Linked DNA regions of Homo sapiens. The protein of the gene in region 2 interacts with the protein of the main gene of each other region in a pairwise test. Each region holds a gene or a part of one and is shown on either strand. Other genes may lie near its edges.

Region 1 (2,734 bases), on a different chromosome or scaffold from region 2:
TCACATGTATGCATATATAACAATGTAATATGCAAAAAAACTTACTAATTTTCACACCTTAGAGTACTGAGATTGAATACCTCTTCTTACTTTAACAGTCATTTTTTAGTATCTGTTTAAAAGCTGCCTGTTAGTGTGTCTAAATTATTTATCTTTAGATATTAATGTTTTAAGAGACAGGGTCTCACTGCCACCCAGGCTGGAGTGCAGTGGTGGTCATAGCTCACTGCAGCCTCGAATTCCTGGAGTCAGGTGATCCTCTTGCCTCAGCCTCCCAAGCAGCAAGGACTGCAGGCACATACCACCACGCCTGGCTTTTATTATTTTTTGTAGCGATGGGATCTTGCTATGTTGCCCATACAGGTCTGGAACTCATGGCCTCACGCAATCTTCCCGTCTCAGCCTCCCAAAGCACTGAGATTACAGGTCTGATCCACCATGCCCAAATACTACACTTTTATATCACAAATTTTACAAAAGTATTTCCCCATTTTGCGCTTTATCTTTTAAACTTTAAAACAAAAACATACAGGAATATTTAGTTTTTGAGTAGTCAATTTATCAGTACATACCCTGTGGATAGTTTCTAGCTTTCATCTAATACTTAGAAAGGTTTTCTCAATTACATGAAAATTAAAAATGTACTCATACCTTTTTCCTTTTTTAAATAAATCTTTATTTTTCATCTTTTCAAAAGTAATACATGCTTGTTGTCAAAAATTAAACAAATAAATTAATGTAGGTAGAGTATCTTTAGTACGGGTTTTCCTATCCAACAACAAGGCTTCTCTCTCTCTCCATTTATTCAAATTTCCTTTGTAAAGTGGCCCTCAGTGAAGACTTAAATTTCTCCATACAAGTCCTCCATAACTGTTTATTTCTAGAAAATCTACTTTTCTTGATGCTGCTGGGAACGAAATCTTTTCATTATATTTTCTAATTCCTGTTGGTACAAAACAAAGCTATTTTTGGATGTTTCTCTTTAACTGGTCATCCTTTCCTGATTTAAACTGAATAGAATAAAAACTGTTTCCATATGAAGACTCTGCCATATTCATGCCCTCTTGGAGGTTTTTCAATGGATGAATCTGATGATACTTGATCCATTTTGGCATTAACCTTAAGAGTTTTCTATATCTTTCTCATTATTAGGATTTTCCTTCACTATGGACACTCTGATGCTGACTGAGCTGGAAGCTAAACCTGAATGCTTTCCCACACACACTACACATATAGGGTTTCTTCCAAGTGTGGACTGTCTGATGTATAATGTAGTCAGAACTAAAGCTGAAGCCTTTGCCACATTCCACACATCTGAAGGGTTTCTCCCCAGTGTGGCTTCTCTGATGCCGAATTAAATGGGCATTAACATGGAAGGCTTTTCCACACTCCTTACACTGAAAGGGTTTCTCTCCTGTATGGATTCTCTGGTGCACAATATAGTTAGAACTACAGCTGAATGCTTTCTCACATTCCATACATTTGAAAGGTTTCTCCCCAGTATGTATCCTCTGATGCCTAGTTAGTTTGGCATTGATACTGAAGGCTTTCCCACATTCCTTACATTGATAGGGCTTTTCTCCAGTATGGATTCGGTGATGATCAAGTAGGTTTCTTTTAGAAGTAAAGCATCTCCCACACTCATTACATTCAAAAGGTTTCTCCCCAGTGTGAATTCTCTGATGCCGCATTAGTTTCCCATTAACGCTGAAGGCCTTTCCACACTCATTACACTCATAGGGCTTCTCCCCAGTGTGAATTCTCAGATGCTGCCGAAATTGGGAGTTACATCTGAAGGCTTTCCCGCATTCATTACACTCATAGGGTTTCTCGCCTGTGTGAATTCTCTGGTGTTGGATTAACTTCCCTTTGACACTGAAGGCTTTTCCACATTCAGTGCATTCATAGGGTTTCTCACCTGTGTGGATTCTCTGATGCTGAATGAGTTTTGTATTATTATTGAAGCCTTTTCCACACTCTTTACACTGATAGGGCTTTTCTCCTGTGTGGATGCTCTGATGCTGCCTAAGCTGGGAGCTGCACCTGAAGCCTTTTCCACATTCATTACATTCATAAGGTTTCTCTCCAGTATGGATTCTCTGATGTTGAATTAATTTTGCATTAACATTGAACGCTTTCCCACAGTCATTACACTCGTAAGGTTTCTCTCCAGTGTGGACTCTCTGATGTGTAATATATGCAGAACTACAGCTGAAGCCATTTCCACATTCCTTGCACTGATAGGGCTTCTCTCCCGTATGGATTCTCTGATGCCTACTTAGGCTTCCATTAACACTGAAGGCCTTCCCACACATCTTACACTGATAGGGCTTCTCCCCACTGTGGATTGTCTGATGTGTGATATAATGGGAACTGTAGCTGAAGCTTTTCCCACACTCCACACATTTGAAGGGTTTCTCCCCACTGTGAAGTCTCTGATGCCAAATTAATTTCTCATTAATGCTGAAAGCTTTGCCACACTCCGAACACTGATAAGGCTTTTCCTCAGTGTTGTTCTCTTGATGTTGAATAAGTTGAGAGTCACACCTAAAGGGCTCTACTAATTCTTCACATTTGAAAGGTCTTTCCTCAGAATTAATTATTTCATGCTTCACGAGTTTTGTATCAAAGCTGATGGATTTCCCCAATCCTGTACACCCAGAGGGCTGCTCTCCAGTGATGGTATGACACTGATATGAGTTTGAACTTTGACTAAAAAAACACTCCTCCACGG
Region 2 (3,658 bases):
AGCACAGTGTTACGTCTGAATCAAAAGGAAATATCTCAAATTATATCTTCTTTTTAATATCTACTAGCCATAAACTGGTATTCTTACATGAATTCAATAATTCAAACATTTAGGAGCCTCAGTAATTTAAGTCTTGGGAACAAGAAACAGGATGAGAAGTGTTTTAATTGGAGAAAACTTACGTTGATCATGATCAGGTTACCAGTTCACAAAGGAGACACACTGAATCACTGTTTGATAGTAGGCAAGATGTCAAAGGTTTTCTCTACTACTAGAGCAGCAGCATAAATCCACCCTAAGTCACCAGTGATAGAAATGCTTTCCTTTGATATAAAACATTTAACAGAACTAGAAGAGCATTAAAATATTTTTAAAACACCTTACTCTGGCCGCAGAAGCAAAAGAATCAGGGCCATGCGCTGCATTTCTTATGCCATCTGTTCCAAAGAGGGCTCTAATGCTTTCAGAAGCATCTGTGCGTGCCACTCCAGAGTTTGCAGGTCCCAGCAGTCTTTTCCATTCACATATAGCATCATCTCTTAAAATCTCCATGGCAATAATAGGACCAGTTGTAATAAACTGGATCAGCTCACTACAAAACAGATAGAAGATTAGTTTGCTTCTTTTTTCTGTCAACTAGGTATTTGTCTTAACGACAGGATATATTTAAATTGGATTATTTCAACATAGACATGAATATTATAATCTTAGAACCATTAAGCATAGTTAATTTTACATGGGCAGGAGAAATTTTTCATAAATTGAGTGTCTTGCAGTGGCTCAATTCACTTCAAATCACTAGTAATGTCAAATTACTGTTACCAGAAAAATCACTGTTCTGTTGAATTAAGACTATTTCATGACTTAAAATGCATACTGTTGACCTATGCTTTTCCCAGTGCTCTAACAGGTACAGAGGATTTTCCTTTTTATTTACATGTGTTTACCACTGCAGTCAAGTACAATTTCACAATATATAGGGATGGATGCCTTGTAACATATTTTTAGTAAGAATTTATTTATTTTTGTGTAAAACTATTAGAATTCAAAGACTGACAAAGAACTCTCTTAATCAATAAACACTGAGCTGGTTTGGTGATAAAAAAAAAAATCCCCAGCAGGCTTCAAGAAATATCCTTTTATTAGCGTAAAAACTACTCTGGGTTATTTCTGTATTAAATTATTAAAGTGTACGCATCGGTTCTTGACTAAAAATCCAGCACTGAGTCACAGTCCCCCAAGGTATAAAAGACAATACTTCATTTTATTTTCTACTTTTATATGTGTACAGGATGCAATGACAAGTTTAACTATGAAATAAGTGACATCCTCCCTCTGACTATATTAAGCAGGGACACAGTACTTTTTAGAGTAAGCCCATGGTTTTCTCTCATCCAAAGTAGAGAGAAGAGATCCTCCTGGAGAAAGGAGCATGGTGTGACAGGCTCTTTTGTGCCCACTAACTTATGACTATTTTTTACACACTTCCTTCCACCCTGCATGTTATATGTCAGCTCCCCTCAGTACTTCCTTTTTAAAACACTCCCATTCATTTTGAAGAATATTTCTAAAAAACAGCATGTACAAAAAAGTATTCTTGTCTTCTATCCTAAGAGTTCTATAATACCTCCTCATACATTTTCTGCCAGACCTTTGCTGCCAAAACAAACAAAACCCCCAAGACCAACCACTAGATTTAAAAAAACCCAAATCAAAGGAGCAAACCATGTTTATTCACTCAATAAGCATTTAATAATTGCCTATAACATATCAGCGTCTGTGCCACAAAAAAGATCCCCCTTCAAGACACTTACAATCTAACGCCCTATTAATACAAAATTCTCAAAACACACAATTGAATAAGCCTATGAATATGGCATGTAACAATATAGGGAAGGATGTGCCTGATCATAGATACTGCTTCATGAAAATTTAATTACTTCACCTAGTCTTTTGTTACATCATTCTCATTAACAGGCAACTAGTTAATTCATTCCTTTAATAAAATTTACTGCATGCAAATCACACATAAATCATTAGACTAGGAGTTGTAAGTTAATGCTATAAACATATACAAAGTTTATACCAAAAGATAATTTCCACCAATTTTCTAGAAAAGTGTATATAGCTATTCTAAGAAGGCTTAGGAATATTTTATAACACTTGATTTGAAATAATCTATAGCATAATAATTTTCTTACATACAAATTTTTTTAAAAACCCACTACTCAGTGCAGGATATCAAATAACATGTCTACTGTGGCCATTTAGTTTGGCTGATGTAACATTCTTTCTTATTAGAAGTGTAAACAGTCTTTGGCAACAGTAATAATAATATGAGCATGCAAAATATTCACTTAAATTTAATTACATGTCAAATATTTAGAATACATAAAGTGTAACATATATTATCTGTTCTATGTCAAGGAACAAAATATATATCAAACTAGTTAAAATAGAAAGGTTCCATGAACATTGCTTTATGTATACAAGACTACCAAAATAGTTTAAAAGTACAACAGGCTACAGTAACCAAAACATCATGGTACTGGTACAAAAACAGACACATAGATCACTGGAACATAATAGAGAACCCAGAAATAAAGCCACACATCTACAGCCATCTGAACTTTGACAAAGTCAACAAAAATAAGCAATGGAGAAAGGATTCTCTATTCAATAAATGGTGCTGGGATACCTGTCTAGCCATAAGCAGAAGAAAGAAACTGGCCCCTTAACATTAACCATATACAAAACTTTACTCAAGATGGATTAAAGATTTAAAAGTAAGACCTCAAACTATAAGAATCCTAGAAGAAAACCTAGGAAACACCATTCTGGACATTGGCCTGGGGAAAGAATTTATGACTAAGTCCTCAAAAGTAATGGCAACGAAAACAAAAATTGACGAGTGGGACTAAAGAGCTTCTGCACAGAAAGCTTCTGCACTAGCAACAGAGTAAAAAGACAATCCACAGAATGAGAGAAAATATTCACAAACTATGCATTCAACAAAGGACTAATATGCAGAATCTGTAACGACCTTAAATAATCAAACAAGCATGAAACAACCCCACTAAAAAAAGAGCAAAAGACATAAATACACACTTCTCAAAAGAACATACAAGCAGCCAATAAGCATACGAAAAAACGCTCAATATCACTAATCATCGGAGAAATGCAAATCAAAACCACAATGAGATACCATTTCACACCAGTCAGAATGGTTATTATTAAAAAGTCAAAAAATAACATGCTGGCAAGACTATAGAGGAAAGAGAATGCTTATACACGGTTGGTGGGAATATTAATTACTCCAGCCATTGTGGAAAGCAGTGTGGATATTTCTCAAAGAACTTAAAACAGAGCTACCATTTAACCTAGCAATTCCATTACTGGGTATATACCCAAAAGAAAAGAAATTCTGCCAAAAAGACACATGCCCTCATACACTCATTGCTGTGCTATTCACAATAGCAAATACATGGAAATAACTCAAGTGCCCATCAGTGGCAGATTGGATAAAGAAAATGTGGTATATATATATAACACAGAATTCTACACAGCCATAAAAAAATAAAATTATGTCCTTGGCAATAATATGGACACAATTGGAGGCCATAATCCTAAACAAATTAATCCACAAACAGAAAACCAA

Evidence for each region. The genes of interacting proteins can lie anywhere in the genome.
Region 1: the proteins of NME7 (region 2) and ZNF23 interact in binary tests that used the Homo sapiens proteins (3 or more experiments, as listed by UniProt).

The regions. Positions count from the first base shown.
Region 1 is NC_000016.10:71,446,945-71,449,678, forward strand, and holds the end of ZNF23 (zinc finger protein 23), read right to left. Parts: coding exon 1,149-2,734; 3' UTR 653-1,148; downstream 1-652. UniProt on the Homo sapiens protein: May be involved in transcriptional regulation. May have a role in embryonic development.
Region 2 is NC_000001.11:169,298,172-169,301,829, forward strand, and holds part of NME7 (nucleoside diphosphate kinase homolog 7), read right to left. Parts: intron 593-3,658; coding exon 385-592; intron 1-384. UniProt on the Homo sapiens protein: Possesses an intrinsic kinase activity. Displays 3'-5' exonuclease activity with a preference for single-stranded DNA. Does not seem to have nucleoside diphosphate kinase activity.